Regions from separate parts of the Homo sapiens genome. Here all the other regions are linked to region 2. The links come from fine-mapping of genetic effects on gene expression. A gene starts in region 2. Each other region holds a variant in brackets. All regions are shown on one strand. Distances are between the middles of the regions.

Region 1 (2,771 bases), 34 kb after region 2:
TTTTTCTGTAAGACTCCAGCTTCTAGTTTCACCCGTATTCCAGGAAAGTCACTTTCCAGGAGTGCCCTGATGTTTCTTCTTTTGCGCTTGGATCTGCTTTTGCCACTGAATGCTTCAAAAATTAGCCTCTTGCCCTAAACAGCTTAATCAGTCAATTCTTCGACTGAATAGTCAGCACTAAGCGTCAGGCTTCTCTCTCCCTTTTTTCTGGGATCTTGGGCCCACAAATCTGACTGTCTTGGCAGCCACACTCTTCTTTTGTCTCCACAGTTCTGTGAGATTGCCTGATGCTCCGCTGCTATCCTTACATGCGGTCTTCTCTTTGGCTTCCTCAGGAAACAGCAATGCCTGGAATTCTTGGCTGCCTTGACAGCTCTCTGATACTTTATAACAGAGGCATGTTTGTGTGGGGTGTGTGTGTGTGTTTAAAAATCTATTTTTCTCATTGTTAATAGAAGCTGAGGTTTGCTATAAGCTACTTACAGCTGGAGGCAGAAGTCTGTATGTATTTGTTAAACAGTCATGTTGGTTAAGATGCTTGATTGAGGGATTCTGCCTCTTAAGAGATCTAACAGTGAGGATTGCATGATCTTTCAAAAAAATCCTTAAAAAAGACAATGGTTTTTATTCGTCATTTATTTTGTTTTTAAAAAAGCCCCAAAGAAAGAGTATCCTCTGCCCCAAGTTAACTGCCTATGAATAATAGTTCACATTGCTTAGGATTTTGAACTTTCCAGAATGTTTTTACCTATAATATTCACCCCACAAATATATGTTGTATGACTTTTGTATCATTTTTAAAAGACATTTATATTTTTTTGAGATAGGGTCTTGCTCTGCTACCCAGGCGGGAGTTTGGTGGTGTGACCACGGCTCACTGCAGCCTCCATTTCCTGGGCTGAGTGGTCCTCCTGCCTTGGTCTCCCAAAGGCTAAGGCACCCTGCCGATATATACTTGTTCTATAGATGATGAAACCAAGAAACATACTAAGTAAATGGCTTAAAATCACAATCTAATTATAGGCAGGAATAACTAAAATCAGGCTTCCCAACTCCTAGCCCTTTCCAATACATTAAAGTGACCTCGATTCATCTGTGTATACATTATGGACCTGTAGTCACACTCCTAAGTTTAACTTTCCAATATTGCTTTATCTTAACTCTGTAACTTTCTATCAGGGATCTTTCCAGTGGCATGGGAAATGTGTATGTCCTCTGAGAGGCACACATACATGCACTTGGGCAGGTGCACAGATGGATCTATGTTCGGAGCCTGCCCATTCAGTCTGAATAAAAAGGAATCATGGTAGTTTGATTTCTGGGTGCAGAGCAATGCTACAGACATTCTAGTATGGTTGTTGGAGTCTAAAGACAGTGTTCCCATGCAGATAGGTGACATGAAAAATATGTAGCGTTCATTTCCTAGAATGTCATAGCCACGGAGTCTTAGA[A/G]TAACTCTTGGCATCCAAGTTAAAAGCTGGATCACTTCCTCCAAATAGTCTTCACTCACTTCCGGGAGTGGGTTGTATTCACCTTTAGCTCTGTTCACGAGACACTCGTGGGATATTCCTAGCCTTCTGCCCCCTTAGTTACGGGCATTGCCGTCTCACTGCTGTATAACCAGAGGCGTGGGAGCTGCAGCTGTCAGAATCCTAATCCCTTCTGCCTGGACTCGTTACCAGTGGTAGCGAGTGTGTATAGTAGTAAACTGTGCTGCGATGCTAGCCTTTCAGTCACTACCAGAGGTCCCAGCAGCAAAAACAAAAATTGTGGATGATACATTTTAACCTTCTAGAAACTCAGCTAACTCCTTTAGGTATGTCCAGGCTTTCCATTTAAATATCAGCCTTAAGGCAGACATGTCTTTCTTTAATGGAAGAGATCTAAATTGGGAGCAAAACATGTGACCACTTTTGCTATCGTTTTAGCTGTGTAGCCTCAATGACATAATTTAACCTTGGTTTTCCTGATTTGCAAACTGTAGGGAAAATAATGTCTTCTAACTTGCTGAAGTATGCTGTAAAAGAAAATGTGGTGGCTGTAAAATGTGCTTTGGGATTCTCGGAAGAAAGGAGTGCTATATTAATTCATGGTACTGCAATTGTTATTTTACCCCAGATTGAGAAGTAAAATATCAAATCGTTATTTTCTAAAGTTTGAATAACTGTTAAATTTATTCAGATAATCTGCTCTATTCAAGAGGCATAAATAGTTTCTTCAGTTTTAAATATATCGGCTGTGATGGTATGGACTCCTTAAGGTAGACGCTGCTCAAAAGATTATCTGGCAATGAGGCTGTTTGACATTGCATAGGTGCTAATGATGCATTGATGGTAACAAGTGAACTTTCAATGTTTTAATCGCCTCTTAAATTTTAGGATTGCAGTCTTACTAGTCAATATGAAGATGATGCCTTTCTTTGTTACAACTGAGGTAGTCTCTGGTGAAGAATATGTTTTCTTTCTGTAGTAGCTTTTTAAAATTTCTGACTCAGAAGCTTTTGTTCTGATTTTAATTTGTTCTAGATAGTGTTTAGATGGTCTTTCTTAAGTCACGCTTCGTTAATATATGATATTTTAATATAATTTTGTCTGCTGTATTTGAAGTTAAGCTTTATTAAGAAACTATAAAAGCACTCCATACATATTTTGAATTATTACCATTTGATATTTTAATGTATTATCTATCTAGTTTTCAAGAAATAATGAAGAAAACATCAATATATCACCTACCATCATTTCATTACTTGATGGATTCAGAAGCTCAAGAAG
Region 2 (2,771 bases):
AAACTAAACTATATGTCAAGGATTAAGGCTTGTGAACCCCCAAAATTTGGGACAGGTCTCAGTTAATTTAGAAAGTTTATTTTGCCAACGTTAAGGACGCGCAGCTGTGACACAGCCCCAGGAAGTCCAGATGACATGTGCCCAAGGTGGTTGGGGCACAGATTGGTTTTATACATTTTAGGGAGACAGGAGACATCAATCAACATATGTAAGTACACTGGTTCCTTCCAGAAAGGTGGGGACAACTCGGAAGCAGGAAGGGCTTCTAGGTCACAGGTAGATGAGAGACAAAAGGCTGCATACGAGTTTCTGATAAGCCTTTCCAAAGGAGACAATCAGAATATGCATCTATCTCAGTGAGCAGAAGGATGACTGACTAGAATGGGAGGCAGGTTTTGCCCTGAGCAGTTCCCAGCTTGACTTTTCCCTTTTGCTTAGTAATTTTGGGACCCTAACATTTTCACAGGCTTTAAATTTTATTATTCTTTAGTTACTACGTGCTAGCATATAAATAAATAGTACAAAACCAAGAAGGCATCCACCTTTTGGTTGTCTCTTCACGTGTAAAACAACACTTTGTGTTAAGTATCTTCACACACGGCGGCGCAAAGGTAGAAACCGATACTAAAAAAGCGTGTAGAAAATAGTTCCCAGCCTGGGCAACACAGGGAGACCTCATTTCTACAAAAATAATTCGCCAAGCATAGTGGTGCGCACCTGCGGTCCCAGCTACTTGAGAGGCTGAGATGGGAAAGTTGCTTGAGCTCGGGCAGCAGGAGTTCCAGGCTGCAGTGAGCTAAGAATGCGCCACTGGACTCCAGTATGGGCGACAGCGTGAGACCCTGTCTCAAACAAAAACAAAAGCCCGTTACTCCACCAAGAAGGCGCTTTTGCACATTGTTTTAATGCTTAACGCCTTCAGGATGCCAGCGTGACGGAAGCAAGTAACCACCAAGGCATCACCACTGGCGCTAAACTTCTCACTTCCGGAGTGCTGCAAGCGCAGAAAATATACGTCATGTGCGGAGGCGGAGCTTCCGCCCTGCGCGTCGTATTAGACGGAAACCGAGCGGGCCCATTTTTCATGGGTTTGCGGACCCACCAGCGAAGGCGGGAGGTGTCGCAGGGACATCTTCTGGCTGTTTCCGTCGCCTGCGTGGCCCTTGCACCCCGGTCTTCCATTAGCGGCGCAGACGTTTGGGCCTAAGCGCTGGGCGAGGCGAGGCCCTGCCCCTCCCCGCCAACGGCCATTCTCTGGACCTGTCTTTCTTCCGGGAGGCGGTGACAGCTGCTGAGACGTGTTGCAGCCAGAGTCTCTCCGCTTTAATGCGCTCCCATTAGTGCCGTCCCCCACTGGAAAACCGTGGCTTCTGTATTATTTGCCATCTTTGTTGTGTAGGAGCAGGGAGGGCTTCCTCCCGGGGTCCTAGGCGGCGGTGCAGTCCGTCGTAGAAGAATTAGAGTAGAAGTTGTCGGGGTCCGCTCTTAGGACGCAGCCGCCTCATGGGGGTCCAGGGGCTCTGGAAGCTGCTGGAGTGCTCCGGGCGGCAGGTCAGCCCCGAAGCGCTGGAAGGGAAGATCCTGGCTGTTGGTATCCTTAACGCCGCGTTGGGACTTGGGGTGCAGGGATTCGGGGCTGGATTCCTCGCGGGGCTCTGCCTTGGGCACAGTGGCATCTGCAGGATGATGGTCTTGGGTCGGGGTCGGGGTCGCTATAGAATCTCTGTCACTAGGTTTTCTAAGTACAGTCGTCCCTCGGTATCCCCGGGGCTTTGGTTCCAGCCCCTCCTCCGTATACCACGATGTTCAAGTTCCTTCAACTCCCTTATATAATGGCGTGGTATTTGCATATAAACTACCCACTTCCGTAATCTTTTAAATCGTTTCTAGCTTACTTGTAATGCCGAATGCAATGTAAGTGATCTGTAAATAGTTGTTATACTGTATTTTAAAATTTTTTGTAGTTTTTATTGGTATGTTTTATTTATTTATTTTTTTCCATCGCAAATATTTTTGATCCGTGGTAGGTTGATTGCGGAATCGGGTGATGAGGCGGGCCGCCCTGTCTGCTTTCCCCAGCTTTGCAGTCTTAGCGGCCTGTGCATCCTGGTTTGTCACTTTGTGGCAGTGCTTTATGTTCCTCTCTGCCTTAGTTCTCTCATCTGCAAAGTAGAGGTGGTGATAGTATCTACACACAGGATTGGAATGAGGAATAAAGAAATTGCCTACATGAGAGAAGTTTAGTGCGATTAATACAGTAAATCTTAAAGTTATTATCCTGTCCGGGAGGTCAGTAAGGAGAGCAGAGTAGACTTCGACGATTAGTTTTGCTTGAGTCTTGCCCCATTTATGTTTCTTAGAGGAAGGATAGTGTGGACAGGTGTTTTACCCATTTTTTAAATTGACTTTTTAAGGACTATTGTTTCTGTACATGTTTGGCTGGTTTTGTTTGTCATTGGAATTAAATTCTTTTTTCATTAGCAAAACGTGATACTGCTTTTGAAATTTTTATCTTTTTCTTTGTTATGTAGTCATTTTTTTTTTTTTTTTGAGTATCTATTCTGGCTCAGAATCTGGTGATACCTTACACCAATTTCCTAAATGGGGATCTATGAGTCTAGGGGCTCGTGGGCTTGTGGAAAGAGTCCTGTAAATGATTGCGGGGGGATTGGGGACGGGAAATGGAGTGCAAGAGTGTGTGGGCGTTCAGCAAAGGAATCCCTGACTGTGGAGCCCTAATTCTTCAGTAGGTACAAAACTTATAAATAAAA
Region 3 (2,771 bases), 39 kb after region 2:
GTGCTACTATCCTCATTTATCCTATATTCTGGTTCTCAGGGTTTCCAAAATTGGTCAGGAGACTTTTTGCCAGTGGGCTTTTGCACATGTCATTTCCTGTATATGGCAGGTCTTCCCTTCTCCTATTTGACAAACTCATAATTAGGAAGGCTCAGATAATTCTTTCCTGAGCTCTCTGAGAGGTGGAACTTTCCATTTTTGCATTGCCTACTGAAGTCTCTGTTATAGCACTTTTACTGAACCTCTCTTATATAGCACTTGGTCTGCCTTCTAATTCATAGTGCCCAGGTACTTAATAAGTGAGTGAATGAATGAATGAATGAATTAGCTATAACATAACCGTATTGGCTGACTTAAATTTGCTCATGAGTGATGATCTTGTATTTCTGATCATAAGTCAGTTGACTCCCTTCAGGACCTAATATAATGTTCTCCTCAAGGCATCACATTAAAAATTTTCAGGAGCATCTTCATAAATCTTTGCAGAATTGGATTAATGGGTAATATGGTTTTTATAAACAGTATTGCATTAATATATATGGAAATTTATGTAATTCTACCACTGTTTTAAGAAACCTATCAAACTACAGTCTGAGGCAATATATTTAATATACTAGTTGGAGTACTATAGCACATATAATTACTAAAGTGAGAATAATTTATTAACACATTTTAAACATTTTACAAGTAACATGAATAATTATCTTCCAGATAAGACTAATAAATTTTCTACATGTTGAATAAAAATAACTCTTGAATATACCAGTCTACTTCAGATGTCTTCAAAACTCAGATTTGAACGTCAAGTTTGAATGTCAATTGTCCACCCCTAGGGGAGGCATACCACCACTTTGAAAGCACACACGTTCATACTTGGCTCCTTGACCCAAGGCCTTCATTTAGACTCTTGTCATTTTTCATCTAGACTGTTCCAATAATCTTCTAATTAGCTTGTAAGGTCACCAGTTCTTCAGCTCCTGCTGTCAGATGTAGTTCTTAAATATCAAATCTGATCATGTCAATTCCTGTTCTAATAATCTTTATTAGCTCCTCCTCACCTTATAGAACAAAGGTCAATGTTGCACATAAATTTAATCCCAACCTACTTCTTCAGGCTTATTTTCTATAGTTCCCCTCCATGCACCTTGTGTAATATTCATTATAATCCCTAAAGACACAATCCAAAATGCCATGATCCTGAATGTTGAAATCCCCAAAGAACAAATGCCCTTACAGCTAATTGAATTCCCAAACCATAATGATAGATTTGGAATTAGGTGCCATCAAAACTTCTAAAGGTGGATTTCAAGGTGTTAGCAACAGTTTCTTTTTCCATTCAGCCCAATACATTTGCCGGAAAATTCAGATGAATGGATTGCCTGTAGAATATAGTAACATGGAAAACTTCAGTTTATAACGCATTATTTGTCTGCATTGGCATTCCTTCTAGCTGATGAAATTCTAGGAGGTCTTAATGAGTTAAAGCTGAATTTGCCTGATGAAGCCAGCAAAGTTACTGACTCTAAAATAACTATGTGCATGGTAGGATAAGAAAGCACACAATGATGTTGCTGTTC[G/A]ATCACCAGTATTGTTTCAGCCAAATCTGTGGTCTGTATATGAGTGCATGAGCAAAGGATTTCCATGTACCCAAAACAACACAGAAGCATGACACAGAGATAGGAAATTTAATAGAAAATGCTCATGTCAGTGTGTATTGAATAAAACTAGAATTTCAAAAAGAGCAGCATCATGTAGAAAATCAATGTGAATGTATTCTTCAAGAAGAGCCATGTCCTAAAAGAAAAGAAACAGTTACTCATCTCCACGCAAGACTTCAGAATACAGTTAATGATTGTGGAAGTCGGCCAGCTCTTATGGGCTACCTCCGTGCAGTTGCCCATAATTTATCCCTGTAATGCGCTTTTTCATATGTTGAATTTTCTTTTTAGTTTCTTTGGGAAGGTTTTGTTTTTCTTTTTCCTTTTTTAAAGTTTTTTTCCTCACCATTTTAAATCATCAGCATTATTTTTTACAACTCACTATGGTATGCTACGTGTTTCATCTTTACATTTCCAAAACTAGAGGCATAAATTGTATGAGCTTTTAGAGAGTTCTAATTTGTTTTATGCACTTTTTGTTTTTTGCAAAATTGACTCCATGGAAGTGCATTTTAATAACACTGACCTTGTGTGTAAGCATTGTGCATATATATGTAAAAACCTTAAAACTTCCTCAATAAATAAAGGGATATCCTTTTTCTGCATCTGCATTTGTGAAAGATAACATTTTTCAATATCTCAGCTCTTTAGGCAACTGTATATGACTGTATATGTGGTGGTGACCCATTGTTGGTATTTAATTTTAATTTTTTTAGCAAGGGGCGTCTCACTATGTTGCCCAGGCTGGGCTCTAACGATCCTTCCACCTCAGCTTCCTGAGTAGCGGGGACTACAGGCGTGAGCCACTGCATTCAGCTCCACTGTAGGTTTGGATCTGTTTCATCAGAAGACTTAGGTTGTTCATCAGGATATTTCAAGTGACCAAACTATATAAGTGATTTCTTTATGAATACAATTTCTCTGCTCATAACTGTTATGCCTGTGTAACTGTGGGTAGCACACCTGAGTGCTTATCATTGCAAAATTATGTATATACAATTTTATTGTATAAAGTAGCCCACAAAGTGTTCTGTTGTGTTTTTATGTTTCTAAACTCTTTTAAAAATGTAAATATGTTTTAAAGAACTTTTAGAATTATTTTTATCAGAATTA

What was found. PIP is the estimated chance that this variant, and not a neighbour inherited with it, causes the effect.
Region 1: its variant is fine-mapped to the expression of ERCC5 in whole blood (TOPMed, PIP 0.97).
Region 3: its variant is fine-mapped to the expression of ERCC5 in whole blood (TOPMed, PIP above 0.99).

What each region holds. Positions count from the first base shown.
Region 1 is chr13:102,878,397-102,881,167 of GRCh38, forward strand. It overlaps the pseudogene METTL21EP. Among named protein-coding and RNA genes, the nearest start is that of ERCC5, 34 kb to the left of the region's middle. The variant A/G (reference allele first, on the strand shown) is at 1,452.
Region 2 is chr13:102,844,764-102,847,534 of GRCh38, forward strand. It overlaps ERCC5 (ERCC excision repair 5, endonuclease), which reads left to right and starts at 1,269. Exons shown (of 15, transcript NM_000123.4): 1 at 1,269-1,591. The coding sequence starts at 1,504. The region is part of intron 9 of BIVM-ERCC5 (BIVM-ERCC5 readthrough); the gene reads left to right. RefSeq lists enhancers at 199-1,023, 608-657, 868-1,657, 1,024-1,846 and a silencer at 2,008-2,057.
Region 3 is chr13:102,883,821-102,886,591 of GRCh38, forward strand. It overlaps the pseudogene METTL21EP. Among named protein-coding and RNA genes, the nearest start is that of ERCC5, 39 kb to the left of the region's middle. The variant G/A (reference allele first, on the strand shown) is at 1,578.